Regions from separate parts of the Homo sapiens genome. Here all the other regions are linked to region 1. Evidence: fine-mapped expression QTL. A gene starts in region 1. Each other region holds a variant in brackets. All regions are shown on one strand. Distances are from middle to middle. Region 1 holds the start of ENO2 (enolase 2). Region 2 overlaps ATN1 (atrophin 1). Region 3 overlaps USP5 (ubiquitin specific peptidase 5). Region 4 holds the start of SPSB2 (splA/ryanodine receptor domain and SOCS box containing 2).

Region 1 (8,000 bases):
AATGAAATCATTGCAGTACCTCAACCTGAGGTATGCACCCTCTCCAAGCCCCACCTTGCCCCTACCCCTGACCAGGTGCAGCTTTTGAGTCTGTGTTCTTCCCTGGCCCAATCCCCCAGTCCTAGCCCACAGCTGGATTCTCAAGGAAAGCCCGGCTTTCCTTCCTTTCTTCTGCACTGAGTTGCAACACTAAATCCCTTATAGCTTGTGACCCCTGAATTTTTATTCATTCAATCCACAATTATTGAGAATGTGCTATGTGCCAGGCCTTGTGCTGTGTTTTGGGGACATTTAAAGCAATCAGAGGCTGGGCATGGTGGTTCATGCCTGTACTCCCAGCACTTTAGGAGGAAGGATCACTTGAGGCCAGGAGTTCAGGACCAGCCTGGGCAACCTAGTGAGACCATGTTTCTACAGAAGTGAAAATAATGGCCCGGCATGGTGGCTCACACCTGTAGTTCTAGCACTTTGGGAAGCCGAAGTGGGCAGATCGTTGGAGCCTAGGAGTTCAAGACCAGTCTGGGCAACATGGCAAAATCCCATCTCTACCAAAAATACAAAAATTAGCCAGGCATGGTGACAGGCACCTGTAATCCCAGCTACTCAGGAGACTTAGGCGGGAGGATCGCTGGAGCCTCGAGGTGGAGTTTGCAGTGAGCTGAGATAAAGCCGCTGCACTCCAGCCTGGGTGACAGAGCCAGACCCTGCCTCAAAAACAAAACAAAAATAAAATATTAAATAAAAATTAAAATATTAAATTAAAAATAAAAATTAACTGAGCCTGGTGGTGCACACCTGTGGTTTCAGCTACTCAGGAGGCTGAGGTTGGAGGATCACTTGAGCCCAGGAGTTCAAGGTTGCAGTGAGCCATGATTGTGCCACTGCACTCCAGCCTGGGTGACAGAGTGAGCTGTCTCTAAAAGAAAGAAAGGAATCAGAGGTGATTCCTGTTCCTAAGGGGCTCACAGTCTGGCTCCAACTCTTTTTTCCTCACCCTATCCTATATAAGTTTCCACTGCCCTTCTCCATTTCCTCGGTCCCAATTCACCTTCCCATTTCCTGCCTCTCTTCTCCTGAGCCCCACCTGTAAGGGATGACCTTTTTACTGATTAAAAAAACACAAGATGTGCTCAGATTTGAGGAGAGAAGGACATTTGTAAGAAAATCTTTTGGTAGAAAGGCACTGAAGATCAGCAACTCTTGTCGGATGGAGGACTTTATGTGTGTTTATTTCAGCAAACATGTAAGGAAACTGCCTCTTTCCTTAGTCAACAAGACCAGATTCTTGAGCTGGTAATGGAAAGAGCATCTCCAAGTAGGGAGAGGTGGTTGCATCTGGAAGCCCCAACTCTCATCCTGACCCCCTGGGCATTCTCTTATTCATGAACTCTGCCACACGGATCTGGTGGGGTGTGTATCTGTGCCATCTTCCTGTTAATGATCTAGACAGGCATGATGGACCCTTCCTGAGTGGCTATTAAATGGGGATGTTTTGAGAGTAAGTCGGGTGTGTGTGTGGAGGGGGGTGAGGGTGTCTCAATGATTGGCAGGTGCCTCTGGGGCCAGAGATGCTAAGCATCCAACAATGTATGGCAGAGTCCAGTACAAAGTTCCTGTAGCCCTCCTGGTGAGAAACACTGCATGAGGCTCAGCACGACCATGAGATCAGGCTGAAACACTTAAATAGATTTCATAAAAGCTTAAAGCCAGAACATGAAAATAAATAAAATTCCAGGCATGGTGGCTCACGCCTGTAATCCCAGCACTTTGGGGGGGCCAAGGCAAGAGGACTGCTTGAGGCCAGGCGTTCAAGACAAACCTGGGCAACATAGTGAGACCCAGTCTCTACAAAAAATTTAAACATTAGCCAGGTGTGGTGGCACATGCCTGGAGGTACTTAGGAAGCTAAGGTGAGAGGATCACTTGAGCCCAGGAATTCAAGGCTGCAGTGAGCTATGATCATGCCACTGCACCCCCAACCGGGGTGACATAGTGAGACCCTGTCTCAATAAAAATAAAATAAAAACAGAGTATCATATAATGAGGCACATTAGGAGATGAAGTTTATTCTTCAGGTTGGGAGGCTCCAACCCATCCATAGCCTTAGGTTCTCTTTGTGGAGAGCACGAACCGAGCATCCACCACCCTAAACTCCAGCTTAGATCCCAGTTCCTTGTCCACTGACCTAGGTCCTACAGGGTGGAGTGCAGTGGCTCGATCTCGGCTCACTGTAATCTCAAACTCCTGGGGTCAAGCAATCCCTCCTCCTCAGCTAAGTAGCAAGGACTACAGGTGTATGCCATCACGCCCAGCTAATTTTTTTATTTTTAGCTTTTGTACAGATGGGGTCTCGCTATGTTGCCCAGGCTGGGTCCTACCTTCTACCCTCCATTTAGGTGTGATCACAGAAAATGTCTCTCCCTGTGAGGAAAATTTGCCCTCTCCTCCCCAGCTACAAGACAGGGTTGTGGCCTAGCTTTGCTGCACCAAAAGAACACATGAATGTATTACAGAGTAGAATATGGCACTTAGGGATTCCTTGAAGGGCAGAAGCAGGACCAGAGCGGGGTCACACAGCACCTCTGCAGTAAATCTGGCAAGGCTTGGCAGGCCAGTCCTCACAGTGTTTCTAGGGACACTGGAACCCCGAGAGTCCCCCAGAGGCCCCATTCCTAGCAACTGGCAACCAAAGCCCATTATTCCTGCATGAACCCCTCCTGACCACACTGGCAGGGGCAACATGGTGGCCAACCTGGGGGAGCTGGCCAAGCTTCGAGACCTGCCCAAGCTGCGAGCGTTGGTGCTGCTTGATAACCCATGCACGGACGAAACCAGCTACCGCCAGGAGGCCCTGGTGCAGATGCCATACCTTGAACGCCTGGACAAGGAATTCTATGAGGAGGAGGAACGGGCTGAGGCTGATGTGATTCGACAGAGGCTGAAGGAAGAAAAGGAGCAGGAGCCTGAGCCCCAGCGTGACCTGGAACCCGAACAGTCATTGATCTAGCAGCAGTTCTAGCCTCTAAAGATAGTAAGGAAGCCTGCAGGGAGGCAGTGGGAGGAGGCCAAGGGCTGGGCAGGTAGGGGAAGAGGCAAGAGGGGAAGCTGCTGCAGAAGGAGGTGGGAGAGGAAAGCATCAGACAAGCAGGACCCTTAAAGAGAGGAGGGTTAGGAGTCAGGGAGAGGAAAAGGGACCCAAGGGGCCTGGGACCAGCTGAGAAAGACTTAGGAGGCCAGAAGAGTAAGTGAAAAGAATTGGGGTGGCAGGCAGAGGAGTTGGTGGGGGGTGGGGCAGCCATACCTGACACAGAGTGAAGTCGGCTAGGAAAGGACAGGTGTGGGTGCATGGTAGGGGCTGCAGGGGAAAGTTGGTGGTGTATGCAGCTGGACCTAGGAGAGAAGCAGGAGAGGAAGATCCAGCACAAAAAATCTGAAGCTAAAAACAGGACACAGAGATGGGGGAAGAAAAGAGGGCAGAGTGAGGCAAAAAGAGACTGAAGAGATGAGGGTGGCCGCCAGGCACTTTAGATAGGGGAGAGGCTTTATTTACCTCTGTTTGTTTTTTTTTTTTTTTTTTTTTTTTTTTTGCGAGGTAGTCTTGCTTAGTCTCCAGGCTGGAGTGCAGTGGCACAATCTCAGCTCACTGCAACTTCCACCTCCTGGGTTCAAGCAATTCTCCTGCCTCAGCCTCCCGAGTAGCTGGGACTACAGGCGCATGCAACCGCGCCTGGCTAATTTTTGTATTTTTAGTAGAAACGGGGTTTCACCACGTTAGCCAGGATGGTCTGGATCTCCTGACCTCGTGATCTGCCCGCCTCCGCCTTCCAAAGTGCTGGGATTACAGGGGTGAGCCACAGCGCCTGGTCCCTATTTACTTCTGTCTTCTACCTCCAGGAGATCAAAGACGCTGGCCTTCAGACCTGATCAGACTCCCAGGGGCAGCCACCACATGTATGACAGAGAACAGAGGATGCCTGTTTTTGCCCCAAAGCTGGAAATTCATCACAACCTGAGGCCCAGGATCTGCTCTGTGCCGGTCCTCTGGGCAGTGTGGGGTGCAGAATGGGGTGCCTAGGCCTGAGCGTTGCCTGGAGCCTAGGCCGGGGGCCGCCCTCGGGCAGGCGTGGGTGAGAGCCAAGACCGCGTGGGCCGCGGGGTGCTGGTAGGAGTGGTTGGAGAGACTTGCGAAGGCGGCTGGGGTGTTCGGATTTCCAATAAAGAAACAGAGTGATGCTCCTGTGTCTGACCGGGTTTGTGAGACATTGAGGCTGTCTTGGGCTTCACTGGCAGTGTGGGCCTTCGTACCCGGGCTACAGGGGTGCGGCTCTGCCTGTTACTGTCGAGTGGGTCGGGCCGTGGGTATGAGCGCTTGTGTGCGCTGGGGCCAGGTCGTGGGTGCCCCCACCCTTCCCCCATCCTCCTCCCTTCCCCACTCCACCCTCGTCGGTCCCCCACCCGCGCTCGTACGTGCGCCTCCGCCGGCAGCTCCTGACTCATCGGGGGCTCCGGGTCACATGCGCCCGCGCGGCCCTATAGGCGCCTCCTCCGCCCGCCGCCCGGGAGCCGCAGCCGCCGCCGCCACTGCCACTCCCGCTCTCTCAGCGCCGCCGTCGCCACCGCCACCGCCACCGCCACTACCACCGTCTGAGTCTGCAGTCCCGAGGTGAAGCCCCCGCCAGGCCCAGAGCCCCTGTGGCCCCCTCCCTTCGCCGCGGCGCCCCTGCCTCCTTTACCCGGTGCCGCTGCGCACCTCTCCGCATCTCTGGCCCGGTGCAGCTGCGCACCTGCTCCGCCGCCCGCGCCCAGGGCGCCTTCCCTCCCTGGCCTTCCCCGCCCGCTGCCTTCGCTTTCTGGCCCTCTGCGCGCCTATCTCTAACTGCGCCTCTCCACCCTTGCCTGCCTCTCTCCCGGTGCTCGCCCTCATCTACGGTTCTATTTGTTTCTAAGTTGGGAGCCTCTCCGGGCGGTGCATTTTTATCCTAGAGCGTCCCTTTTGGTTTGCATTTGGGGAAATGTCTTCTCTCACCGTTCCTCACCTCCCCCAGACTTCCCTTGGACTCCCCTCTCTCCTGCTCTTCCCCACGGCGCCCCTCTCCGTTCGCGCTTCCTCCCCTCTGCTGCACGGGGGAGAGATGGAAGAAGTGGGGATCTGTCGAGGCGCAGAGGGGAGGACAGGCCCAGCTCGCCTCCACTCCCCACCGGCTCTTATCCTCTTCACTTCCCGCTGCAACCCCCAGGGACTGCAGGGCCTTTCTCAGGACCCTCTTCCCCGACACCTGTATTGCATGCGCCTTTCGCGGGAAGAGGAGGGATACACGTTTGGGAGAGAGTGGGACCTTGGGGAAGGGGCAGTGTTCAGGCAGCTGGGGTGTTAAGTTGGGGAGGTATGGGGGCTCTGGAAGAGAGGCCCAGGCAGCCCATCCTCTTCTTGGCTCCCAGGAGAAATGCAAGCCTGGCAGCCATTCCGCTCTGAGGAGATCTGGGGGAACCCCACCGGCTGGCCAAGCTGCAAAGAGGCGCGGGAACCACTGTCGTGCCCCTCCCCTCCTCACTGCAGTGTTCTCCCATCTCATCATTTGATCTTACCCCGCCCCCCACTGCAGTGACCTCCCCTTCCTCACTGCATTGACCTTCTCCTCTTCCCAGGGGGGAGGGGGAATCCCTTCTACAGCCCTAGACTGCAGCCAGCGCCTCCCTACCCACCCCCCACCCACTGCAGTAACCTCTTTCCCATCCCTCCCAGCCTCCCGCCCCGCCCATTGATCTCAGGCTCCACCCCTCTAAGCCTCTTATCTTTCTCCTTCCTTCCCTTCCACCCGAGGAGATCCCAGCCATCATGTCCATAGAGAAGATCTGGGCCCGGGAGATCCTGGACTCCCGCGGGAACCCCACAGTGGAGGTGGATCTCTATACTGCCAAAGGTAATGGGTGTGGCATGGGCCTTCCTACAGCCCTAGCTTTTCCACGGCCAGGCTGGGTTCGGCCAGGGGTTCGGAGGCCTTTTTTGATACCCAGGGGTATGGGGTGCTGGGCCAGGCTCACAAGCCTGGGTTGTGGCGGTTGGATCCTCCTTGTCCGGGGAGCCAGGGTAGGTGGGTCTGTGTTCGAGTTTAGCGTGTGAGGCATGTCCTGCCTCCGTGTGTCTGCCTGTGCACTTGCATGTGTGCAGACGTGTGCTGCAAGCAATTTTCTTTCTGCGGGCTCCCACTTGTGCATGTGGGGCCTCAGATGGGTGGATGAGGAGGCCACTTCTTGTGCATCTGCCTCAGTGTGTGTGTGGGGTGGGGGTGGGGGGATGTTAGGGAGCAGTGTGGGGAGAGAGCTAGATGTGGTAGGCAGGCAGTTTAGAGCCAGAAGGCTGAAGGACTCCCTGGCCCCTGTGTCCTCTTCACTCCCTCTCATTCCATGTTCCTCCTTTAGGTCTTTTCCGGGCTGCAGTGCCCAGTGGAGCCTCTACGGGCATCTATGAGGCCCTGGAGCTGAGGGATGGAGACAAACAGCGTTACTTAGGCAAAGGTGAGGTCCCTTCTCTTTTCCAGACTCTCCCCCACCTCAGCCTTATGCCCCTACCTCACACCAGTCCCCAGTCCTCCTCTAGCATGGCTTCCCCTCCTCCCATTGATCCCTTCCGGCCCCTCCTGGCCCGACCCAGTCCAGCCTCTTCCTTTCCCCAGGTGTCCTGAAGGCAGTGGACCACATCAACTCCACCATCGCGCCAGCCCTCATCAGCTCAGTGAGGCCTGCTCTTTGCTGGGGATAGCAGGGCCAGAGTTCTGGAAGGAATCCCGGAGCAGGGCAGGAGGAAGGGAAGAAAGAAGGCCCACTCTTAGGAATCATGGTTACAAGGGGGAAGGGTGGGGAACAGCTTCCTTAATGCACCCTGCTCCCATGGGAGTTCAGGTCCCCTAATCCAGGTAGGCCCCTGTCACAGGGACCTGGTTGGACCCTGGCCAAATGTGAGCTTGGGTGTGAATGAGGGGACCCTCTGCCTTAGGGCTCAGCCTCCAGCCTGGCCCTGGGTGATGGAGGCTCTGCCCTCAGGGTCTCTCTGTGGTGGAGCAAGAGAAACTGGACAACCTGATGCTGGAGTTGGATGGGACTGAGAACAAATGTGAGCCGGGGCCGGGAGAAAGTGGGGAAGCGTCAGGGTGGGGAGGCGTGGAGCAGATAGAGAGCTGAAGGGCCAGTGCTGTAGTGGCTTCCTCAGGAATGACTGTCAGGGGCATTCTCCTCTCAAAGCCAGAGCAAGGGGAGATGAGTTTAGCTGCAGAGGGAAGGACCGACAGTAGGCAGAAGGAAGACCTTCTTTGCAGCATACAGAGGAGGGGGATGGCCTGAGAGAGTCTGTGGTCTCAGGGATATTTAGAAAGAGGTGTGGCTCTCTGCCGTTTCCAATCTCCTCCTCCCCACCCATTCCTCTCCCTGCTGTTTTCAAGAGAGCATGGATGAGGTGTTGCTGGGGCAGGGGTGGGGAGGGAGGAGGGGGTCTCCTTTACTGGCTCCTTTTGGAGACTACAGATGGAGGCAGGAGCTAGAAAGGAGAAGGGGACATTGTGCTCAGCACCTTCCTCTATAATCTCCTAGCCAAGTTTGGGGCCAATGCCATCCTGGGTGTGTCTCTGGCCGTGTGTAAGGCAGGGGCAGCTGAGCGGGAACTGCCCCTGTATCGCCACATTGCTCAGCTGGCCGGGAACTCAGACCTCATCCTGCCTGTGCCGGTGAGCAATAAGCCAGCCTGCGGCTCTCCCAGGGGCGGGTGGGGGAGGGAGCATGCAACTCATGAGGAATGATGGGAGGAAAGTGAATTGAGGGAGGTAAAGAGGAAGGATGGGGACGTGAGACTTAGTCCGGAAAGCTGGGGGAAGTTTGGGATCTTGGGTTAACACTCCTGGGGCGGGCAGGGAGGGGCTCTTTGACCCTTCTGTCTTTCTGTGGCTCCCCAGGCCTTCAACGTGATCAATGGTGGCTCTCATGCTGGCAACAAGCTGGCCATGCAGGAG
Region 2 (8,000 bases), 21 kb after region 1:
GGAGATGGACACCCTTCTCTAGGAGGGCTGGCAAAAATACACCAATCACAAATAGTCATCTTTGTTGTGCTTTTTGTTTAAGATTGTTTTCCTCTTTTGCTATGGTGGGTGTTGTTCTTCGGATTTTTTTTTTTTTTTGGTTGATAGTATTTTAAAACCAGTCTACATAACAACTAAAAAATGTGGGAAAATAGCTGTAGTTGAAAAAAAAAAAAAAAAAAAAAAGGCCGGGCATGGTGGCTCACGCCTGTAATCCCAACACTTTAGGAGGCTGAGGCAGGTGGATCATCTGAGGTCAGGAGTTCGAGACCAGCCTGGTCAACATGGTGAAACTCCGTCTCTACTAAAAATACAAAAATTAGCCAGGTGTGGTGGTGTGCGCTTGTAATCCCAGCTACTTGGGAGGCTGAGGCAGGAGAATCGCTTGAACCTGGGAGGCGGAGGTGGCAGTGAGCTGAGATCATGCCATAGCACCTCCAGCCTGGGGAACAAGAGCAAAGATCCATCTCAAAAAAAAAAAAAAGGAAAAAAAAAGAAAACTAGTTGGCCGGGCACAGTGGCTCACGCCTGTAATCCCAGCACTTGGGAAGGCCGAGGCAGGCAGATCACCTGAGGTCAGTAGTTCGAGACCACCCTGACTAACATGGTGAAACCCTGTCTCTACTAAAAATACAAAAAATTAGCCGGGTGTGGTGGTGCATGCCTGTAATCCCAGCTATTCAGGAGGCTGAGGCAGGAGAATCGCTTGAACCTGGGAGGCAGAGGTTGCAGTGAGTGAGATCACGCCACTGCACTCCAGCCTGGGCAACAAGAGTGAAACTCTGTCTCAAAAAAAAAAAAAAAAAAAAAAAAAAAGACAAGTCTACTGGGCAGAGCATCAGTTGAAAGTTCAGAAGATAGGCTCTGTCCCAGCAATTTTGTGATTCTAAGTAAATTGTGAAGTTTCCTGGAAAGGTTAGACTCACCCCTTACTGCCTGCATCAGTATGGTTCCGTGGAGGTGAGTGAGAATTACTGTGTTTCTTGGGAAAAAATACACTACAGAATATGGACATGCCGTTTACCTAGCAGGCCTCCAACTCAGAATAGAATACATGGGTAAGCTTAGTCTGTTCCCACTGGAGCTAGCAGCACTTAATTCAGGAAGAAAGACCTACTGATGTTAGTGGGTTTAAAGGTCAATCACAAGAAGAGCGCACACACATCAGTGGAAAGGAAGAAAACAGTAAGAAAATACCATTTTTGCTCTCAAAAGATCTTACAATCAGTAATTTGGAGGGACTTGACACTTAGCAAGAAATACAAACAAGTGCAAATGAATACAGCTGGCTATAGGGATTTGGATAAAGATAGATACCTGCTGATAGACAGATACGGATGGATTGGCTGTGAGAAACTGTGTAACCCAGTCTACACCAAGTAGGAGGATAGGCTTAAAAACTGGTACATCTGTGTTGTTTGCTCACGGATATTTTGAGTCTTTAATCATTCATGTGAAAACCCTGACTTTTCCTCTAGCCTTAGGGAGCTCAAGTACTAGAGAATGGGTCCTTTATGGGGCTCTCAAAAATGAAGTTCTACAATTTGGGGCTACCTAGGTTTAGTCTTGGGATTGGTAGGGCTGTGTTCCTTTGTATTATAGAATGGGACATTCTTCTTCTACCTACTCTGATGTGAGAAAAGATTCTTTTCATATCTCTGTGACTGATCTAGGCCTTCTGAGAATTCTCCCCAGCAACTTCTGAGGAGAATACAGCAAAGTATAGAAGAAAGAGCATGGGCTTTGAAGTCACCGACATGGGTTTGATTCTGGCTCTGTCACTGGTTCCTCACTGTGTGAGGTTGGGCTAGTCACAATCACAATCTTTGAGCCTCAGTTCCCTCACCTATATAATGAGGGTAATAATGCTTACCATTCAGGGTTGGTTGTAAATATTAAATGAAATCATGTATGTGAAGGGCTTGATATAAAGAAGGTATTCAATAAATTCATACTTCAATGTCATTTCTTTTTTCTTTTTTTTTTTTTGAGACAGAGTCTTACTCTGTCACCCAGGCTGGAGTGCAGTGGCATGATCTCGGCTCACTGCAACCTCTGCCTCCCAGGTTCAAGTGATTTGCTTGCCTCAGCCTCCTGAGTAGCTGGGATTACAGGCACGTGCCACCACGCCTGGCTGGGTTTCACCATGTTGGCTAGGCTGGTCTTGAACTCCTGACCTTGTGGTCCATCCACCTAGGCCTCCCAAAGTGCTGGAATTATAGACATGAGCCACCATGCCCCGCTCCATTTCTTTATGTTCCTTTGTAAGGCTCCGTGGAATGTGTGTGTTCACAAATATCCTTTAGGGATCATGAAGGGTAAACTGTGTGATCTCCTGGATTGGGGCTTGTAGGTACATCCGAATTTTCTGCCCTCTACAGAGATGAAAGAGATTATACTTCGAGCAGAATCTGCCTCCCTTTTAGATAGCTAAGGTAGCCCATGGGGCATGCCAGCAATGTCTTGTGGTATCTGTACCTCTTGGCCCAAAGGCTTAGGGTTGGGCCGCTTGCTCAGTTCTCTGACAAGCAGAATAGTATTCCTTTGTGACTCTGTTCTCCAAGTTGGAGACTCTGATGGTTTCCTTCTAACAGGTTTCATTGAAAACAGATCCTGCAAAAGTTCCAGGTGCCCACACTGGAAACTTGGAGATCCTGCTTCCCAGACCACAGCTGTGGGGAACTTGGGGTGGAGCAGAGAAGTTTCTGTATTCAGCTGCCCAGGCAGAGGAGAATGGGGTCTCCACAGCCTGAAGAATGAAGACACGACAGAATAAAGACTCGGTGAGTTAAAATGAGAGACATGAAAGATGAGGGGCGGGGCAGGCAAGCTAGGAGGAAGGGTCTAGAGAAGAAGAACAAATAATGTGCACCATAAAGTTAGGTGCAATGTAAAGAACAGTGTTACCTACCTCCTTCCTCCTCCTGTAGATGTCAATGAGGAGTGGACGGAAGAAAGAGGCCCCTGGGCCCCGGGAAGAACTGAGATCGAGGGGCCGGGCCTCCCCTGGAGGGGTCAGCACGTCCAGCAGTGATGGCAAAGCTGAGAAGTCCAGGCAGACAGCCAAGGTATTCTGTCCTCAGGTCCTCCCACAGGATGCCCAAGGCACTGGGGCTGAGGGTGTGTGTGTGTTGTGGGGGAACTTCCTGTTTGGCAGAGGGTAACGGTGGAGCTCGGGAGGTAGGGAAAAGACAGGAATTTTCTCTTTCTCTCTAACAGAAGGCCCGAGTAGAGGAAGCCTCCACCCCAAAGGTCAACAAGCAGGGTCGGAGTGAGGAGATCTCAGAGAGTGAAAGTGAGGAGACCAATGCACCAAAAAAGACCAAAACTGAGGTGGGAAACCCTTGTCGCCATCCTGACCCATCTTGTGACCATTCTTTTCTCAGACTTGCTTATGCTCACTATTCTTAGCTGGATCTCTCCTGGGACATAAGAGAAAGGCCAGATCATAGTGCTTATGAGAGCAGTTCTGTCTATAATATGCCAGAGAGATTCTTAGAGCTTTGACAGACCACCAGATGACCAGGCAGGGCCAAAGGGGACCAGAAGAGTTGGGGGATTCTAGTCTCTGGGTGAGAAGTCTTAGTCGGAGGAACAAATAAATCTTAAGGAAAATGCAGAAGTGGTCTTTCTTTTTTATTGTTTTTTTTTGTTTGTTTGTTTTTGAGACAGTTTCGCTCTGTCACCCAGGCTGGAGTACAGTGGCACAATCTCAGCTCATTGCAACCTCCGCCTCCTGGGTTCAAACAATTGTGCCTCAGCCTCCCGAGTGGCTGGGATTATAGGCATGAGCCACCATGCCCGGCTAATTTTTGTATTTTTGGTAGAGACAGTGTTTCACCATGTTGGCCAGGCTGGTTTGGAACTCCTGGCATCAAGTGATCCGCCCGCTTCAGCTTCCCAAA[G/C]TGCTGGGATTACAGGTGTAAGCCTCTGTGCCCGGCCAGAAGTGGTATAAAAACCAAGGGCTTGGGGGATGGAGGATGGTTAAAGTGGTGGTTATGAGATGGTGGAAGACAGGGAGTTGGAGTCAGCTGTGGGTAGAGACAAGGTGCTTGAGATGGATCCTTGAGGAAGGAATAGGGTTTTACAGGCGGGAAACAAGACTGGCTGCTAGGGAGCAGCCAAGAATGTGAGGAAAGTGAGAAATCCCCAGATGGTAAGAGGTGGGCTTGAGCAAGAGTACTCACCACATCACAGTACAACAGTGTGCTGTGAGGGGAAATGATTTTATGCAAGAGAGCCCCAAATCTCAGGGAAGCAGGAAAGGAAAAGAGAAAAAATGAGTCTTCCCTTTTCTACAGCAGGAACTCCCTCGGCCACAGTCTCCCTCCGATCTGGATAGCTTGGACGGGCGGAGCCTTAATGATGATGGCAGCAGCGACCCTAGGGATATCGACCAGGACAACCGAAGCACGTCCCCCAGTATCTACAGCCCTGGAAGTGTGGAGAATGACTCTGACTCATCTTCTGGCCTGTCCCAGGGCCCAGCCCGCCCCTACCACCCACCTCCACTCTTTCCTCCTTCCCCTCAACCGCCAGACAGCACCCCTCGACAGCCAGAGGCTAGCTTTGAACCCCATCCTTCTGTGACACCCACTGGATATCATGCTCCCATGGAGCCCCCCACATCTCGAATGTTCCAGGCTCCTCCTGGGGCCCCTCCCCCTCACCCACAGCTCTATCCTGGGGGCACTGGTGGAGTTTTGTCTGGACCCCCAATGGGTCCCAAGGGGGGAGGGGCTGCCTCATCAGTGGGGGGCCCTAATGGGGGTAAGCAGCACCCCCCACCCACTACTCCCATTTCAGTATCAAGCTCTGGGGCTAGTGGTGCTCCCCCAACAAAGCCGCCTACCACTCCAGTGGGTGGTGGGAACCTACCTTCTGCTCCACCACCAGCCAACTTCCCCCATGTGACACCGAACCTGCCTCCCCCACCTGCCCTGAGACCCCTCAACAATGCATCAGCCTCTCCCCCTGGCCTGGGGGCCCAACCACTACCTGGTCATCTGCCCTCTCCCCACGCCATGGGACAGGGTATGGGTGGACTTCCTCCTGGCCCAGAGAAGGGCCCAACTCTGGCTCCTTCACCCCACTCTCTGCCTCCTGCTTCCTCTTCTGCTCCAGCGCCCCCCATGAGGTTTCCTTATTCATCCTCTAGTAGTAGCTCTGCAGCAGCCTCCTCTTCCAGTTCTTCCTCCTCTTCCTCTGCCTCCCCCTTCCCAGCTTCCCAGGCATTGCCCAGCTACCCCCACTCTTTCCCTCCCCCAACAAGCCTCTCTGTCTCCAATCAGCCCCCCAAGTATACTCAGCCTTCTCTCCCATCCCAGGCTGTGTGGAGCCAGGGTCCCCCACCACCTCCTCCCTATGGCCGCCTCTTAGCCAACAGCAATGCCCATCCAGGCCCCTTCCCTCCCTCTACTGGGGCCCAGTCCACCGCCCACCCACCAGTCTCAACACATCACCATCACCACCAGCAACAGCAACAGCAGCAGCAGCAGCAGCAGCAGCAGCAGCAGCAGCAGCAGCAGCATCACGGAAACTCTGGGCCCCCTCCTCCTGGAGCATTTCCCCACCCACTGGAGGGCGGTAGCTCCCACCACGCACACCCTTACGCCATGTCTCCCTCCCTGGGGTCTCTGAGGCCCTACCCACCAGGGCCAGCACACCTGCCCCCACCTCACAGCCAGGTGTCCTACAGCCAAGCAGGCCCCAATGGCCCTCCAGTCTCTTCCTCTTCCAACTCTTCCTCTTCCACTTCTCAAGGGTCCTACCCATGTTCACACCCCTCCCCTTCCCAGGGCCCTCAAGGGGCGCCCTACCCTTTCCCACCGGTGCCTACGGTCACCACCTCTTCGGCTACCCTTTCCACGGTCATTGCCACCGTGGCTTCCTCGCCAGCAGGCTACAAAACGGCCTCCCCACCTGGGCCCCCACCGTACGGAAAGAGAGCCCCGTCCCCGGGGGCCTACAAGACAGCCACCCCACCCGGATACAAACCCGGGTCGCCTCCCTCCTTCCGAACGGGGACCCCACCGGGCTATCGAGGAACCTCGCCACCTGCAGGCCCAGGGACCTTCAAGCCGGGCTCGCCCACCGTGGGACCTGGGCCCCTGCCACCTGCGGGGCCCTCAGGCCTGCCATCGCTGCCACCACCACCTGCGGCCCCTGCCTCAGGGCCGCCCCTGAGCGCCACGCAGATCAAACAGGAGCCGGCTGAGGAGTATGAGACCCCCGAGAGCCCGGTGCCCCCAGCCCGCAGCCCCTCGCCCCCTCCCAAGGTGGTAGATGTACCCAGCCATGCCAGTCAGTCTGCCAGGTGAGCGGCCAGGTGGGGCGGAGGTGGGCCTGGAAAGGGGACGACGACAAGGCGGCGACGAGAGAGGGAGTAGCAGGGAGGGGCCTTGCGCTGGTGTAGTGTTTTAGAAAAGCACGCCCCTCTCCTCCGTCCAGGCCTAGTGGCCAGTGAGGCCCGCAGCAGCTCACAGCCTGCAGGGGTGGTTTTGAGGCGGGGGCTACAAGCACTCGCCGGGGCCGCGGCGCTGCGGGCTCCATCGGGCAGCTCGCACCGCCTGAGCGCCCGCTGCTTCCACGCCCGGCAGGTTCAACAAACACCTGGATCGCGGCTTCAACTCGTGCGCGCGCAGCGACCTGTACTTCGTGCCACTGGAGGGCTCCAAGCTGGCCAAGAAGCGGGCCGACCTGGTGGAGAAGGTGCGGCGCGAGGCCGAGCAGCGCGCGCGCGAAGAAAAGGAGCGCGAGCGCGAGCGGGAACGCGAGAAAGAGCGCGAGCGCGAGAAGGAGCGCGAGCTTGAACGCAGCGTGGTGAGTGCGTCACTGCCTGCGCCACCGCCTTCTTTCCCTCTTTCCTTCCTTCCCTCTGCGCTGCGCTGCGCTACGCTACGCTGCGGGGCTGTGGCTGGGTGGGCGGGCGAGTCACGTCGCCACCTGTCGGAGGGGAGGTACCACTGCAGCCCAGGAAATGGAGCCCAAAAGGTTTTCAGCGAGAGCCATCTGCATTCCTGGGTTGGGAAAAGGCATGCTCAGATGGGACTACCTGTGGATCCCAAGAAGGGCAAATATTCGGGAGCGGGGGCCGCAGTTAAGTTCCAGGTGGGCAGAGTTTCAATGAGTTGAGGCATTTTGGCATTCGGCTGTCGAAACAAATGGGCAGCTTAAAACCAGCCACCTCTTTTCATAACTGCCGCTTTGACTCCACTTTTCCCTGTATCCCACAGAAGTTGGCTCAGGAGGGCCGTGCTCCGGTGGAATGCCCATCTCTGGGCCCAGTGCCCCATCGCCCTCCATTTGAACCGGGCAGTGCGGTGGCTACAGTGCCCCCCTACCTGGGTCCTGACACTCCAGCCTTGCGCACTCTCAGTGAATATGCCCGGCCTCATGTCATGTCTCCTGGCAATCGCAACCATCCATTCTACGTGCCCCTGGGGGCAGTGGACCCGGGGCTCCTGGGTTACAATGTCCCGGCCCTGTACAGCAGTGATCCAGCTGCCCGGGAGAGGGAACGGGAAGCCCGTGAACGAGACCTCCGTGACCGCCTCAAGCCTGGCTTTGAGGTGAAGCCTAGTGAGCTGGAACCCCTACATGGGGTCCCTGGGCCGGGCTTGGATCCCTTTCCCCGACATGGGGGCCTGGCTCTGCAGCCTGGCCCACCTGGCCTGCACCCTTTCCCCTTTCATCCGAGCCTGGGGCCCCTGGAGCGAGAACGTCTAGCGCTGGCAGCTGGGCCAGCCCTGCGGCCTGACATGTCCTATGCTGAGCGGCTGGCAGCTGAGAGGCAGCACGCAGAAAGGGTGGCGGCCCTGGGCAATGACCCACTGGCCCGGCTGCAGATGCTCAATGTGACTCCCCATCACCACCAGCACTCCCACATCCACTCGCACCTGCACCTGCACCAGCAAGATGCTATCCATGCAGGTGAGACCCCTCCTTCCTTGCCCTGGCCC
Region 3 (8,000 bases), 54 kb before region 1:
TTTTTCACCTACTTTTGTGTCATTAAAGCTTGGCACAGATGTTTTTTAGCTTTATTCCGTTCTGAGATGAAGCACTACCTCCTTCCGTCCCTCCTCCCGACTTGTTCCTTCGCTCGTGCTCATTGCTGATCCAGCCCTTCCTGCTTCTTTACAGAAAGAGGAGGACCCTGCTACAGGCACTGGAGACCCACCCCGGAAGAAGCCCACGCGGCTGGCTATTGGTGAGCACCGCTGCAGTCCTATTCTTCTCCCTGAGCTGGTCTTTCTGGCTCTCAGCAGCACCAGGAAAGCCCCAAAGAGTGGGCCTGATTGATGGCCCTAGAACTCTGGATGGGGCAAGTGAGGTGCTGGCTCGGAGGAGGGACATTGACCTGTTGTCATTGCTCTACTCTCCCTCTTCTTCCCTATCCTTCCAGGTGTTGAAGGCGGATTTGACCTTAGCGAGGAGAAGTTTGAATTAGACGAGGATGTGAAGATTGTCATTTTGCCAGATTACCTGGAGATTGCCCGGGATGGACTGGGGGGACTGCCTGACATTGTCAGAGATCGGGTATGACTGCCCCCTATGCTACCCAAGATTCTAGAGCAAGATGGGCCAGGGTAGTGGTGTCTTAGGCAAGCACTGACAAAGCTGAAGGCCAAGGGGAAGAGGGGCATGTGGGGCAGGGGGTTGGGTATTGCCTCTGACCCTCTGCTTCCCCCAGGTGACCAGTGCAGTGGAGGCCCTACTGTCGGCCGACTCAGCCTCCCGCAAGCAGGAGGTGCAGGCATGGGATGGGGAAGTACGGCAGGTGTCTAAGCATGCCTTCAGCCTCAAGCAGTTGGACAACCCTGCTCGAATCCCTCCCTGGTGAGGCCTGGCCCCTCTGCCTCGGGCACCACCCCCAGAGCAAGGACAAGGAGCCCACTTTTCTGGGGGATCTGGTGGGAGAGAGGGTAGGGAGCAGGACAGGAAGGGAAGCTTGGAAATGAACACGACATGGGGATGGCCAGAGGAGAAGAGAGAGAGACCTTGGATTGGCGGGGGGCCTGCAGAGCCCTCTCTCTCTGCCACTCCCTCAAATCCCCGACCCACATTTCTGCTGATTCTCTTCTCTGTGGGTTAGTGGCTGGAAGTGCTCCAAGTGTGACATGAGAGAGAACCTGTGGCTCAACCTGACTGATGGCTCCATCCTCTGTGGGCGACGCTACTTCGATGGCAGTGGGGGCAACAACCACGCTGTGGAGCACTACCGAGAGACAGGCTACCCGTTAGCTGTCAAGCTGGGCACCATCACCCCTGATGGAGCTGGTACAGCCTCCCCTCCTCCAGCCACTCTCATGCTTAAATATATTTCATTTGTTAGTAATTTCGTGTGACATGTATAATACATGAATGCATTATCTTGATAAGAAAGGAAAGTAGTCAGGTGCGGTGGCTCATGTTTGCAATCCCAACACTTTGGGAGGCCAAGGCAGGAGAATTGCTTGAGCCTAGGAGTTCGAGACCAGCCTGGGCAACATAGTGAGACCTCATCTCTCCAAAAAAGAAAAAAAAAGAAAAATTGGCTGGGTGTGGTAGCTCCTGCCTGTAGTCTCACCTACTCAGGAGGCTGAGGCAGGAGGATTGTTTGAGCACCCGGGAGGTTGAGGCTGCAGTGAGCTATGATTGCACCACTGGACTCCAGCCTGGGCTACAGAGACCCTGTCTCAAAAAAGGAAAATACTGCAGATGAGACTAAATTTTTGATTACTCCCCACTCAAATCCTCATCCCTTTCCTACCAAGCCTGTCTTACCTTATCCTATACAGGTAGAATCAGAATCACAAGTAATTCCAACCCTCACCCGGTTTCATCTGTCTTCCCTGACCGTCAGCCCCAGAAGGGCCATGACCGCACTCATATTACTCATATTCAAGGGAACCAAGAGGGTGGACCTTACTGGCTCTCCTTCTGTCCCCTCAAGTCCCTTCTGTGCAAGGGATGGGATGGTGGCCTGGCTAGTCCTGAGCCACTTCCCCTGATTCTCTTCCTGCCTCCTGCTCTAGACGTGTACTCATATGATGAGGATGACATGGTCCTGGACCCCAGCCTGGCTGAGCACCTGTCCCACTTCGGCATCGACATGCTGAAGATGCAGAAGGTGAGACCCCCTTCAACTTCAGATTCTTCTACTTCCTGCCCCTGTGAGGGCCCTTCCTCTTTGCCTGAGGCTGAGGTAGGGTTTTGGAGAAATCTTCTAGTTAACCCCATCCCCAAGATACACAGGCTTCTTTTAAATATCTAAAATCATTTATTCAGTGAATAGTACTGAGTACCTACTATGTGCTAGAGGCTGTGTGAATAAGACAGATGTGGTTTTTGCTTACAAGAGTTCTACTCTAGAAGAAAAGGCAGACATTAGTCACATTCCCAGATAAATAAGTGAATAGTTGCAAACTGGTGGGCACTGTGAAAGAGAGGCGGAGGGTACTACAGTAATTGACAGCAGGGTGGCCTGGCCTAGTTTAGGGATCAGGGACATTTCCCTGAGGAAGCGATGCTTAACTGACAATGTGAAGGAGGTTAGGGGTAACTTAAGGATGGGAAAAACATTTCAGGTAGAAGGAAATTTTATTCCTCATTCAAGCAGAGGCCCTGATGACTAACGGGCCTCTGGGACAATTATGTGTGGCCTTCCAGAACTTGAACTGGACGATACTCAACATACCTCCCATGTTTGAGCCTGTAATTCCACAAATTCTAGGCCACAGTTGAGTATCATCCTAGACTCAGTGAGAGATCGAGGTAAAAACTACAGGGTTGAGTTTCTCACTCAGTCTGAAGTGCCCCTTCTCACACAGACAGACAAGACGATGACTGAGTTGGAGATAGACATGAACCAGCGGATTGGTGAATGGGAGCTGATCCAGGAGTCAGGTGTGCCACTCAAGCCCCTGTTTGGGCCTGGCTACACAGGCATCCGGAACCTGGGTAACAGCTGCTACCTCAACTCTGTGGTCCAGGTGCTCTTCAGCATCCCTGACTTCCAGAGGAAGTGAGTAGTGCCCTCTCCTTCCCCAGGCCCCCTCCTGGTCAGCACCCTCTGGGCATACTCCTCCTTCAGCTTCCCTCAGCACCTCTGTGTTTGATTCTAGTCTTAGAGTAGTTCCTATCGGCTGGGTGTGTTGGCCCACACCCGTAATCCCAGTACTTCGGGAGGCCAAGATGGGAGAATTGCTTGAGCCCAGGAGGTTGAGACCAGCCTGGGCAACATAGCGAGACCCTGTCTTCTCTTAAAAAAAAAAAAGAATAATTCCTGTCACACTCTGGCTGACATGCTGTGAGGGGAGCAAGTTAGGGAGCTGCACCACCAGCACCCCAACACACAAACCCCACTGATAGTGCAGAGTGCCAAGTCCCAGGGCTCTGTGGCCTTCTGACAGACTCAAGGGTTAGCAGGTGGTCTTTATTTTAGGGCAGTGACATCAGATGAGCACCTAACATGGACATGTAGCACTTGGGGAGGAGGGGGGCTTGGCACACTAAGAATAAAGGCAGGTTCTCAGCAGAAATGAGTTTACTTTCGAATTTGGGGAACAATTAGAATGTGAATGCTCAGAACATGTCAACAGGTTCTGTCCAATAGAACGTGAACTGCACTTATCCTAATCCCAGGCTACCTTCCCCCTCCCCGGCTCCTCTGCCGCCGAGCGTGCTTGCACATTGGACATAGCTGAGAAGGGGAGAACAGGCAGGTTGCTGGAGAGAAGCGACTCCAAGGTTCACCCACAGCAACTCCCCACTCTTGAGGGGAGCCCGTTCACAGAGTTAGTAAATGTTTGCTTCCTTCCCTTTTCCTCGGCGCTCAGGCCAGAGCCCCTCCAACTGTCCTTCCCTTGACTTTTAGGTATGTGGATAAGCTGGAGAAGATCTTCCAGAATGCCCCGACGGACCCTACCCAGGATTTCAGCACCCAGGTGTATGTAACCAGGTCCTATGTAGGAAAGCTGTTGACAGTCATGGCCGTATACCTTCCTCCTCCCTGACCGCCTGGGGGGCACAGCACTTTAACCCCTGGCCTTTTTTTGTTTTGTTTTGTTTTGTTTTTTGAGACGGAGTCTTGTTCTGTTGCCAGGCTGGAGTGCAGTGGCGCGATCTCGGCTCACTACAACCTCTGCCTCCTGGGTTCAAGTGATTCTCCTGCCTCAGTCTCCTGAGTAGCTAGGACTACAGGCACATGCCACCACGCCCAGCTAAATTTTTTTTGTATTTTTAGTAGAGACGGGGTTTCATCATGTTGGCCAGGATGGTCTCGATCTCCTGACCTCGTGGTCTGCCCACCTCGGCCTCCCAAAGTGCTGGGATTACAGGCGTGAGCCACCGTGCACGGCCACCACTGGCCTATTAGGAGCATTCGGGTGACTGTCTTCTGGACGTGTTGTCTGTCTTGAGCTGGGTTCCTGTAGAATCTAAGGTTTTTCACGTTGTTGAGAGTTAGCTAGGGAGAGCCACGAGC[A/G]GGGGGTTGAGCTGGGGACACACAGGGTCGTTAGTTGACTGAAGTGAAATGTTTTCTTGGATATTAATGCAGGGCCAAGCTGGGCCATGGCCTTCTCTCCGGGGAGTATTCCAAGCCAGTACCGGAGTCGGGCGATGGGGAGCGGGTGCCAGAACAGAAGGTGCGTCTAGGACCCTGTCCCTTTCAGGCCCTGGGATTGTGGGGAAGCTGAGGTCTGGGAGATGTCTAAAGAAGGCCCCTGGATGGCCACTGAGCCCCAGCTGAGTCCCTGCCCTGACTCTTCCCAGGAAGTTCAAGATGGCATTGCCCCTCGGATGTTCAAGGCCCTCATCGGCAAGGGCCACCCTGAATTCTCCACCAACCGGCAGCAGGATGCCCAGGAGTTCTTCCTTCACCTTATCAACATGGTGGAGGTAAGGGCTGGCAAGATGGCACACCCCCATCTTCCTGCAATTTACTCGCTCTCCTTCCTGCCCATTTCTCCCTCTATCAGCCCCAACCCAGTCCCATCCCTGAACCCCAACAGTCTGTGTCCCTGTGAACAGTGCTTGCACCTGAGGAGGACAGTGAAGGTGATGATCCCTACCCTTGATGGGCTTGAAGCCCAATTCAGATTATGCCCAAAGACAATGATAAGAGAATACTTGCTGCTTATAAAGAAAAATACAAGCGTGTTCTAACACAGTCCCTCAGTGCAGGGATGGGGCCAGAAATGGGGAGGGGTTGGTGAATTAGGGAAGGTTTCTGCTCTGCTCTTGTGTCCCTGAGTTCCGAGTGGTAGTCTGCCTTCTCTCCCTGACTCTCCCATGAACCTTTCAGGCCCCATTCTGTTCCCTGGCTGCCCAGACCTCCCTACCCTGCCTCTTTCCCATAGAGGAATTGCCGGAGCTCTGAAAATCCTAATGAAGTGTTCCGCTTCTTGGTGGAGGAAAAGATCAAGTGCCTGGCCACAGAGAAGGTGAAGTACACCCAGCGAGTTGACTACATCATGCAGCTGCCTGTGCCCATGGATGCAGCCCTTAACAAAGGTAGGCTGCTCCATCAGCAAGGCCGTGGCACGGTGGGAGGCTAAGGTCTAGGAGGAATGCTTGGGCACCTCATGGGAGCACAGCCCAGGGAATGCCCTGCTTCACCAGCCAAGGTTCCAGTCTGGGCCACCAGGAGTAGGTAGATTAACCTCGTCCAGTGGACACTCAGCTTGTTAGCAGAGCTGCATGGAAACAGGCGAGATATATTGGACATGTGTCAGGGGTGCTTTGGAAGGGTAGAGGAACTGAAATACGGACACAGAGCCAGTAGGGAGAGGCTAAGGAGGCAAAGAAGCAGCACCCTCCGAAGGATCCACCAACCCATTCTGTCACCAGAGGAGCTTCTGGAGTACGAGGAGAAGAAGCGGCAAGCCGAAGAGGAGAAGATGGCACTGCCAGAACTGGTTCGGGCCCAGGTGCCCTTCAGCTCTTGCCTGGAGGCCTACGGGGCCCCTGAGCAGGTCGATGACTTCTGGAGCACGGCCCTGCAGGCCAAGTCAGTAGCTGTCAAGTAAGTCCTCTGGTCGGGGCCTGAGGCTGTGGGTCTATGGCAGAGCTATCCCAGAGGATACTTCTGTCTCTTCCCTGTTCTTTCATCCCTTTGTGGTTGGAACCTCAGGGTTGAATCAGTTGGGCTGGTAATCTGGCCCTGATGGAACCAAGGGGCCCTGGTAGGGGGGACACGGGTACTGACTCTATCTGTCACCTTGTCCTGCCCCAACCACTCCCTCTTCTGTGGCACAGGGTCTCTTTGTAGTGTAGCCTCTCTTCATTGCCCCTCAGTCATGGCTGAGCACAGGCACTTAGGATCAGCTGTGGGCAGAATTTGGATTTCCAGCAAATAGCCACACTTTGAGCCTAGCCATTGGCACCTGGCATGGGTGTGAGACCTGAAAAAGGGCTTTGGTCTCGGGGAGTCAGCTACCCAGCCCTTTGCTGCTCCTGCCAGTGAAACAGCTCTTCCTCTCTGTGTGGGTTTTTTTTTTTTTTCTATGTGTGGGTCTTGCTATGTTTTTTTCCCTACGTGTGGGTCTTGCTATGTTGCCCAGGTTGGTCTCTTAACTCCTGGGCTCAAGCAGTCGTCCTGCCTTGGCCTCCCAAAGTGCTGGAATTACAGATATGAGCCACCATGCCTGGGCTTTTTTCTTTTTCTTTTTTTTGTTGACAGCCTTCCTTCTGGCCTCTACTGCTCCTCGTTGGCCGAGGACAGGCATCAGACACCTGCCCAGGGGAAGAGAAGAATATGGAGGATCTTCTGGGTTATTGGGACTTCTACCCATGAGGGGCTGAACCCCAGGTGGGAGTTTCAGGAGAGGAAAACCCTGGGGATTGTCTGGGTACCAGCACAGTCTCTCTTCCCTAGGACCACACGATTTGCCTCATTCCCTGACTACCTGGTCATCCAGATCAAGAAGTTCACCTTCGGCTTAGACTGGGTGCCCAAGAAACTGGGTATGGCTGCTGGAATGAGGGAGGTTACACAGAAAATGCTAGAAAAAGAAGGGGCTTTAACACATATAAACTAGTGTTTCTCAAAGTTTCCTCTGAAAGAGGAAAAAAAATCACCTTCAATGTTTCAAAATTTATCTAGTTTGAAAGCACTAACTAAAAATATTAAAAGACTTCTTTGATTGTTATAGGTATGATTTACAACCAAAAGTGATTTTTGTAGTTTTTTAAAATAATTGGTAAAATGTTTTCATTTTGATAATCTTGAAACAATTAATTCTCGTGAGTCTTACAGGTCCCTGACTGTCATTTGAGAACTCGTGATGTACCTTCATTTTCTAGATAAGGAAGTTGAGACTCACAGGAATATAAAATCATTCTGTCTCACAAGTTCTAGGCCCCCTGCCCTGTCCATAGATTATTTATGGTAGATCTAGGACCAGCATCCTGGCCTCCCAACTCCCAGGCTTAGTATTATTTGTCTTATACTGGGACCCCTAAGATGGGTGCCGTGCTTTTAGCAGCTCCTCTTTACAGAGCAGTTCTGACATAGGGGGCAGGGGATTGAGGTTCCCGAATCACTTTCCAGGTAGGCCTCCGGGAGCTGCTGAGGTGACCCTTTTCCCACAGATGTGTCCATCGAGATGCCAGAGGAGCTCGACATCTCCCAGTTGAGGGGCACAGGGCTGCAGCCCGGAGAGGAGGAGCTGCCAGACATTGCCCCACCCCTGGTCACTCCGGATGAGCCCAAAGGTAGCCTTGGTTTCTATGGCAACGAAGACGAAGACTCCTTCTGCTCCCCTCACTTCTCCTCTCCGACATGTTAGTGACTCTTCTTCCTGCCTGTCTCTCTCCCGTGCTGATGGGGGCCTCTCTGCCTTGCATCCCCTGCCCCTGTCCTTTGTGTTTCTCCTGTCCTCCCTTTCAAATTTCCTCTGCCCTCTTTGATTGACATGGGGCCTCCCCAGCGCACTCCTAGCCACCTTCTGGGTGTGGATGGCAGCAGTGCCAGCTAGTGGCCTCTCTGCCCTTGTTACCTCCCTGG
Region 4 (8,000 bases), 38 kb before region 1:
TAGAGCCCAGGGAATCCGGTATACAGCCTGGGTACCTGGCTCTGCCCATCCTTCTTTTGGACCTGTACATCAAACCCAGTACCTAACGCTTTGCACCTCTTGCTCAGGGGTTGATATCTCCTGAATTCTCTCATCCCTGCAGTTCCTCCCTCCATTCTGAAGGTTCACCATTTACTGGCCAAGAGAACTTGAGAAAGTTGCTTTCTCAAGCCTGTTTCACCTCTATTGCTGTTGGGTTAAATTAAATAACAGCTGTGAAGACCCCTAGCCTTTCCCAGCACTGAACAGAGGTTGAGGCAGGCTGGATGAAGGTCCATCCCCTCTGCTCTTGTCAGAAGAGTTTCCATCCCAAACCACTGCCACCAGGGACAGAAAGTTCTCCCCACGTCTGCCCCAGGCCTCACCTCTCCTTTCGCCCAGGTAGCGGATGCGGACCTGGCACTGGCCCCAGACAGCGCTTACTGCCGGATAGAGGGTCCTGCCCTTCAGTCCGCGGAATGCTGGCCCCAGGTAGGTGCCCCCAATAGCGTAGCCCAGAGTTCCCTCCTCCATGTCCAGAACCACCAGCAGTCTCTCTGGCACCTCCAGCTGCTCACCCTGAGTTCCCGCTGGATACTGGGGGGCTCCGGGCCCCTTGCTCTGATGGTACAGCTTCCCCCGCCCGATGTCCCAGCCCCACGACTCGCTGTTGCTGCCCAGCAGCGCCGCGTAGTGGTCAGTCTGCAGCGGGGCGAGGGCCGTGGCCACGCCCACCACGGCATGCGTGCCCCTCTGCTCTAGGGGCCAGCTGATCTCCCAGGCGTGCAGGCCCCTTGAATAGCCCCTCTTACCCCGGGCCCCATCAGTGCTCTGGGCCACGGGCCGCCGCTCAAAGTACAACCCTCCTTCCTTGACCTCGATGTTCTCTGAACAGTCTTTGGGGTTCCAACCGTGGCGCCGCTGGGCCCCCAGGTCAGGAGGGGGTGCAGACAGCAGCTCTTCCAAGCCCTCGGGACAGGAGAGGTCAGGGTACAGGGCCTGTGGCGTGGGGGTGCTGCTGCTGCCCCCTGCCAGAGCTGTCTGGCCCATGGAGGTGAGGAGCTAGAGGACTCCCCGAAAGAGGCTTGCTGGGGCGTCTTTCTCTTCTGAAAGTTGAGCTCCAGTTTGGATTGACCTGGAAGGGAGCTGGGAGAAAAGGGGCGTGAAGAGCAGAATCCTGGCGGGGGCTCGTCACCCAGGTACCCCATCCTTTCACCCAAGTTTGCCAACGGGCCCGCTCCTCCCTCCTCGCTGCCCCAAAGCTCCTGGGCCCTTCATCTGCCCTCGCCCCATCTGATCCAGGTCGCCAGAGACTCTCGCGAGTTCGCCCCATTTGGGCCTCAGCATGGACCATCCCCCTTACTCGCCCGGAGCCCTCGCCGCTGCCCCCGAACCTCGGTTGACTTCCCAGCCCTGGAGGTCGCCGGGCCTCTGAAGGAGCCGGGCGGAAAGAAGCCGAGGCGCGCAGGGCGCAGACCGCCGGCCGCTTCCGCCCCCAGCTCCTCCCTTGGGCCGAGCCCGTCCCGCGGCCCCGCCCCTCCAGGGCCCTCTGGGGCTTAACCCTCTCATCGCCGCCCACGGCCGTGCAGCTCCGAGGCCACGCCCCTGTGGGGCCCCGCCCCCTCCTGGGCAGTTACCGCTCTATACCGGCAGCAGCCGCGGAGAGCATGCCCCGCCCCCGTGGAGCCCACCCCGGGCGGTTAACCTCGGGTCTCAGTCCCGGGCTGTGACCCTCCCCGAGGCCCCGCCCCCACGGCGAAGGCCCGGGGCAGTTAACCCTTCTCTTGCTGCGGCAGAGTCCGCACCCGGGCAGGCCCATCTCAGAATTAACGCTTTGATGGCATCACCGCGTCGGGAATCCCTGGGGATGGTGTTCTCCACCGTCAAGACCTTTGAGCCGCCTGAGCGACTAACTCCTGCGCCCCTGAGGGTAAGGAGCATGGGGTCAAGGAGGGGCTTCATTGTGCCGAATCCCATTTCTACTTCCCTGTGATTCTGGGTCACTGTTTCTGGGCTGGTCCCTTTCTGCCCCGGGTTGTGAGTCAGCCTGTGCCACCTCTGAGGCTGTGAAATCTGCTTCAGGCTCTAGGCTGTACGCATCATAGTTCTCCCTGCTGGTCCAGTCTTCATACTGGATGCCAATCCATTACTGAGCCGTTGATCTCATTTGGTAGAGTGTCCTGATTAAGACTTCGAGTTTGAGTGAAGCTATGCCACTAGTTAACTGCGCGATCTTGGGGAAGTTGCCCGATTTCTCTTTTTTTTTTTTTTGAGACAGGGTCTTGCTGTCACCAAGGCTAGAGTGCAGTGGCGCCATCACAGCCCACTGCAGCCTTGACCTCCTGGGCTCAAGTGATCCTCCTACCTCAGCCTCCCAAGTAGCTGGGACTACAGGCATGTGCTACCACACCCAGCTAATTTTTAAAAAAATATTTTTATTTTTATTTTTATTTTTTTCGAGACAGAGTCTTGCTCTTGTTGCCCAGGCTGGAGTGCAGCGGCACGATCTCGGCTCTCTGTAACCTCCATCTCCCAGGTTCAGGGGATTCTCCTGCCTCAGCCTCCTGAGTAGCTGGGATTACAGGCACCTGCCACCACGCCTAGCTATTTTTTGTATTTTTAGTAGACACAGGGTTTTGCCATGTTGGCCAGGCTGGTCTAGAACTCCTGACCTTGTGATCTGCCTGCCTTAGCCTCCCAAAGTGCTGAGATTACAGGTGTGAGCCACCACGTCCGGCCAAAAAAAAATTTTTTTTAGAGACAGGGTCTCCCAAAGTGCTGGGATTTCAGGCATGAGCCACTACGCCCAGCCCCAGATTTCTGTAGTTTTCTGTTATGTAAAATAGGAGCAATGATGGTAGTTACCTCACAGGGTTGTTGTGCAGTTGAAATAATCCAGGTAAAGCATGTAGCACAGAGCTGGGTACATAGTAGTCACTCACCAAGCATAGCTGTCAATGTGCTTAATGAGTGCCGACACTATAAGGAGGCAATATAATATAATGGCAAACATGCCAGCTGTGGGACCAGACTCCCCGGGCATGAATACCTGAAGGCCAGTGTGTGTATGACCTTGGGCAAATTACTGAACCTCCCTGTGCCTGTTTCTTCCTCTGTAAGACAGAGATCACATTAGTATCTATTGCATGGGGTTGGTAGTGAGAATCCAATGAGGTTATAGATGTAACACATTTGGAAGAGTTTCTGGTTCGCATTTAATGATTTGTGCTAAGCACTGGAGATTAAGCAGTGAATCCTTAAGGAGGTTACAAAGACTTTTATAAAATAATGTATCATGTAGTAATAGTAAATAAAATTATGGAGATATAAAGAAAGTACTATAGGAGTAAAAAGAATAGGACTCCTATCCGGGGTTCAAGCAGTTAGGAAAGGAGCATCTCCAAAAGAGGTTCACACCTGGGCTGAATCTTTTCATGTCCTAGAAGAGGTTCACACCTTCACACTGGGCTGAATCTTTCTCTTTTTTTTTTTGAGACGGAGTCTAAGCTCTGATGCCTAGGCTGGAGTGCAGTGGCGTGATCTCAGCTCACCTCTGCCTCCTGGGGTCAAGTGATTCTCCTGCCTCAGCCTCCCAAGTAGCTGGGACTACAAGCGTGCACCACCATGCCTGGCTAATTTTTGTATTTTTAGTAGAGACAGGGTTTCACTATGTTGCCCAGGCTGGCCTCGAACTCCTGACCTCGTGATCTGCCCGCCTCGGCCTCCCAAAGTGCTGGGGTTACCGGCATGAGCCACCGCGCCCAGCCTGGGCTGAATCTAAAAGGATGACCAGGAATTGGCCTGAGACGAGCCACTTCTCTGCAGTATGGAGGTTGGGTTACGGTTGCTGCATGTAGAAGATATTCCAGACAGAAGAGTCCGCATGAA[A/T]AAAAGCAAGAAGCAGCAGGTGGGTTTGGGGAAGTACGATATCTTCAAGGTTGCTACAGCCAGAAAGGAAGCATGAGAAGGGCCAGATAAGTAGACAGCAAGTCACAGAGGCCTTCTAGGCTGAGTTAAGGAATGCAAATGTTTTCCCATAGGACAGGCCAGTGATGGGGAGCCACTGTAGGATAGAAGAAGAGAGGAACATGGTCAGATAGGCATTTGATTTATTTATATATTTTGAGCCAGGGTCTCACTTTGTCACCCAGGCTGGAGTGGAGTAGCGTGATCACGACTCATGGCAGCCACAACCTCCTGAGCTCCGCTGATCCTCCTACCTCAGCCTCCTGAGTAGCTGGGACTACAGGTGCATACCGCCATGCCGAGCTAATTTATTTTTATTTTTTTAATTTACAAATTATTATTTCTTAATTTTTAAAATAGAGACAGAGTCTCAGTCTGTTGCCCAGGCTGGTCTCGAACTCCTGAGTCAAGCGATCCTCCTGCCTCAGCATCCCAAAGTACTGGGATTACAGGCGTGAGCCACTGTGCCTGGCCAGATCTGCATTTTAGAAAAACCACCCTGGCAGCAACATAGAGGAGCTTCAAGGGAAATAGAACTGGAAGTTGGCTGGGCGCGATGGCTCACACCTGTAATCCCAGCACTTTGGAAGGCTGAGATGGGCGAATCACCTGAGGTTTGGAGTTCGAGACCAGCCTGGCCAACATGGAGAAACCCTGTCTCTACTAAAAATACAAAATTAGCCGGGCATGGTGGAGCATGCCTGTAATCCCAGCTACTCAGGAGGTTGAGGCAGGAGAATTGCTTGAACCTGGGAGGTGGAGGTTGCGGTGAGCCGAGATCACGCCATTGCACTCCAGCCTGGGCAACAAGAGTGAAACTCTGTCTCAAAAAAAAAAAAAAAAAAGGACTGGAAGCAAAGACACCATTTCCAGCAGCCCAGGTGACAAGTGTCAACAGCCTGAAATAGGACAGTAGAAATAAGGATGAAAATAATTCAAGAAACACTGATGAAACGGCAAGATTTGGTGACTGATTAGATATGGAGTTGAGGCTGGGCACAGTGGCTCACGCCTGTAATCCCAGCACTTTGGGAGGCCGAGGCAGGCGGATCACCTGAGGTTGGGAGTTTGAGACCAGCCTGGCCAACATGGTGAAACCCTGTCTCTACTAAAAATACAAAAATTAGCTGTGTGTGGTGGTGGGCACCTGTAATCCCAGCTACTTCGGAGGGTGAAGCAGGAGAATTGCTTGAACCAGGGAGGTGGAGGCTGCAGTGAGCCGAGATGGCGCTACCGCACTCCAGCCTGGGCGACAGAGCAAGACTCCATCTCAAAAAAAAAAAAAAAAAAAAAAGAGAAAGGGAAGTTTCTAGCCTGGAAAAATTGATTGGAAGGTGGTGCCACCAATCAAGATGGAGATGACAGAAAGAGGAGTAATTGAGGGCAGGGGCAGGAGGGTGGGAGAGGGAGATGGTGAGTTCAGTTTAGGATATGTTTTTGAGGTGTCTGAGCCACAAGCAAATGGAACCATCCAGAACACACAAGAAAATGGCAGGTCTGGAGGCAGAATGAGAGGCCTGGGCTGGAGACAGGGATTTGGGAGGTGTGTCAGTCTTTAGTCAGGAGTTGAACTATGAGAATGAGTGAGTGAAATATGGGCGATGGGGACAAAGAGAGTGTGGAGCAACAGAAGGGTCAAGGAGAATAGAACAAGGTAGAAAATTCAGTTTTGATTACTTACAAGATTGTTTTGGTCAGAGGTCACTGGCAACCTTGGTGAGAGACAGCACATGTGGGGACTGGTAGGTGGAACTCCAGGCTGAAGGGGCTGGACTGTCACAAGCTTTACATTTTGAAGGAATAGAAAATGAGGAGAAGTAAATTACAATTATGTCACATAGTTAAAGTTACCCTTGGAAATCCCTTAGTAGGCTGGGTGCAGTGGCTCATTCCTGTAATCCCACCACTTTGAGAGGCTGAAGCAGGAGCTTGAGCCCAGGAGTTTGAGACCAGCCTGGAAGACTAGTGAGACCCCATCTCTACCAAATAATAATAATAAAATAGGCCGGACGCGGTGGCTGACGCCTGTAATCCCAGCACTTTGGGAGGCCGAGGCGTGTGGATCACCTGAGGTCAGGAGTTCAAGACCAGCCTGGCCAACATGGTGAAATCCCGTCTCTACTAAATATACAAAAAAAAAAAAATTAGCCAGGCGTGGTGGTGTGCACCTGTAATCCCTCAGCAGGAGAATTGTTTGAACCCAGGAGGCGGAGGTTGCAGTGAGTCAGGATGGCGCCACTGCACTCCAACATGGGCGACAGAGTGATACTCCATCTCAGAAAACAAAACAAAAAAATAAAATAGGCTGGGCATGGTGGCTCATGCCTGTAATCTCAGCACTTTGGGAGGCCGAGGCAGGTGGATCACTTGAGGTCAGGAGTTCGAGACCAGCCTGGCCAACATGGTGAAACCCCGTCTCTACTAAAAATACAAAAATTAGCTGGGCGTGGTGGCATGTGCCTATAATCCCAGCTACGCAGGAGGCTGAGGAAGGAGAATCGTGCCTGTAATCCCAGCTACTCAGGAGGCTGAGGCAGAAGAACCCGCAAGGCAGAGGTTGCAGTGAGCCAAGATCCTGCCACTGCACTCCAGCCTGGCGACAGAGCAAGACTCCGTCTCAAAAAATAAAGTAAAATAAAATAAAAATAATTGAGGACCACAAGAACTAGGAAAAAAAGAAAAAAGAAAAAAGAAAGGCCGAGGCAGGCAGATCACCTGAGGTCGGGAGTTTGAGGCCAGCCTGACCAACATGGAGAAACCTCGTCTCTACTAAAAATACAAAAATCAGCTAGGCATGGTGGCACATGCCTGTAATCCCAGCTACTCGGGAGGCTGAGGCAGGAGAATCGCTTGAACCTGGGAGGCAGAGGTTGTGGTGAGCTGAGATTGAGCCATTGCACTCCAGCCTGGACAACAAGAGCGAAACTCCATCTCAAAAAAAAAAAAAAAAAGAAAAAGAAAATCCCTCAGTTACTGCATCTGTTAGGTGAGCATATATTCGTTTGTGTAAAAATCACTATGTGGCTGTATATATATATATATATATATATATATATATATATATATATATATATATATATATAAAATGATGTACAAAATATTTTATAATGTTTTAAAGAGGAAGAAGAAAGCAGCACACTAAGAAGTAACTCAGGAATGGAAAACCAAACATCATATGTTCTCATAAGTGGGAGCTAAGCCATGAGAATGCAGAGGCATAAGAATGACACAATGGACCTTGGGTACTCAGGGGGAAAGGGTGGGAAGAGGTGGAGGGATAAAAGACTATAAATAGCGTTCAGTGTATACTGCTTGGGTGATGGGTGCACCAAAATCTCACAAATCACCACGAAAGAACTTACTCATATAACCAAACACCACCTGTTCCCCAATAACCTATGAAAATAAAATAATAATAAAAAGAAGAAGAAAGCATACTAAAATAAAGATATGAACCTGAAACTTGTCATCCACCCAACCTGGATATGCTTGCCAGTATGTGACATCAATAATAACATCATGACTGTAAGACCAGGCACAGTGGCTCACACCTGTAATCCCAGCACTTTGGGAGGCCAAGGTGGGCCGATTTGAGATCAGAAGTTGAAGACCAGCCTGGGCAGCATGATGAAACCCCGCCTCTACAAAAAATACAAAAAATTAGCCAGGCTTTGGTGGCTTGCGCCTGCCATCCCAGCTACTCAAGAGGCTGAGGCAAGAGAATCCCTTGAGTCTAGAATTGGAGGTTGCGGTGAGCCAAGATCAGGCCACTGCACTCCAGCCTGGGTGACAGAGCGAGACCCCGTCTCAAAAAATAAATAACATCATGACTGTGGGTGGCAGCCTATGATGAATAGTAGTGAAGGACCCATGTGATAACCAAGGCCTGGGGACAGAGAACAGTGCCTGCCCCATGGCTAGCTCTAGCTCAGCTTGAGAATTTAATCACGCCTGTGCTGCTGATGCTGCTGCTGCTGCTGCTACTGGTTGTTTAAAACATGGTTGTTGGCCGGGCA

What was found.
Region 2: its variant is fine-mapped to the expression of ENO2 in whole blood (TOPMed, PIP above 0.99).
Region 3: its variant is fine-mapped to the expression of ENO2 in whole blood (TOPMed, PIP above 0.99).
Region 4: its variant is fine-mapped to the expression of ENO2 in whole blood (INTERVAL, PIP above 0.99).

The regions. Positions count from the first base shown.
Region 1 is chr12:6,909,997-6,917,996 of GRCh38, forward strand. It overlaps ENO2 (enolase 2), which reads left to right and starts at 4,584. Exons shown (of 12, transcript NM_001975.3): 1 at 4,584-4,663; 2 at 5,825-5,921; 3 at 6,421-6,516; 4 at 6,675-6,733; 5 at 7,042-7,111; 6 at 7,585-7,718; 7 at 7,944-8,000. The coding sequence starts at 5,837. It overlaps LRRC23 (leucine rich repeat containing 23), which reads left to right. Exons shown (of 8, transcript NM_001135217.2): 6 at 1-30; 7 at 2,734-3,031; 8 at 3,895-4,233. The coding sequence ends at 3,007. RefSeq lists enhancers at 3,987-4,056, 4,087-4,256, 4,935-5,576, 5,577-6,216 and silencers at 4,367-4,856, 4,388-4,578.
Region 2 is chr12:6,931,207-6,939,206 of GRCh38, forward strand. It overlaps ATN1 (atrophin 1), which reads left to right. Exons shown (of 10, transcript NM_001940.4): 2 at 2,634-2,822; 3 at 2,970-3,107; 4 at 3,259-3,372; 5 at 4,341-6,355; 6 at 6,639-6,861; 7 at 7,275-7,971. The coding sequence starts at 2,796. Among named protein-coding and RNA genes, the nearest start is that of ATN1, 7.2 kb to the left of the region's middle. RefSeq lists a silencer at 6,323-6,392. The variant G/C (reference allele first, on the strand shown) is at 3,945.
Region 3 is chr12:6,855,601-6,863,600 of GRCh38, forward strand. USP5 (ubiquitin specific peptidase 5) reads left to right here. Exons shown (of 20, transcript NM_001098536.2): 3 at 155-221; 4 at 417-550; 5 at 705-850; 6 at 1,107-1,291; 7 at 2,029-2,123; 8 at 2,824-3,017; 9 at 3,870-3,941; 10 at 4,551-4,638; 11 at 4,766-4,891; 12 at 5,353-5,506; 13 at 5,843-6,017; 14 at 6,870-6,958; 15 at 7,586-7,777. Among named protein-coding and RNA genes, the nearest start is that of USP5, 7.5 kb to the left of the region's middle. The variant A/G (reference allele first, on the strand shown) is at 4,479.
Region 4 is chr12:6,871,834-6,879,833 of GRCh38, forward strand. It overlaps SPSB2 (splA/ryanodine receptor domain and SOCS box containing 2), which reads right to left and starts at 1,470. Exons shown (of 3, transcript NM_032641.4): 1 at 1,413-1,470; 2 at 405-1,164. The coding sequence starts at 1,068. It overlaps LOC105369632 (a long non-coding RNA gene), which reads right to left. Exons shown (of 4, transcript NR_135083.1): 3 at 5,666-5,767; 4 at 3,931-4,081. RefSeq lists silencers at 130-249, 1,430-1,879 and an enhancer at 800-1,039. The variant A/T (reference allele first, on the strand shown) is at 3,907.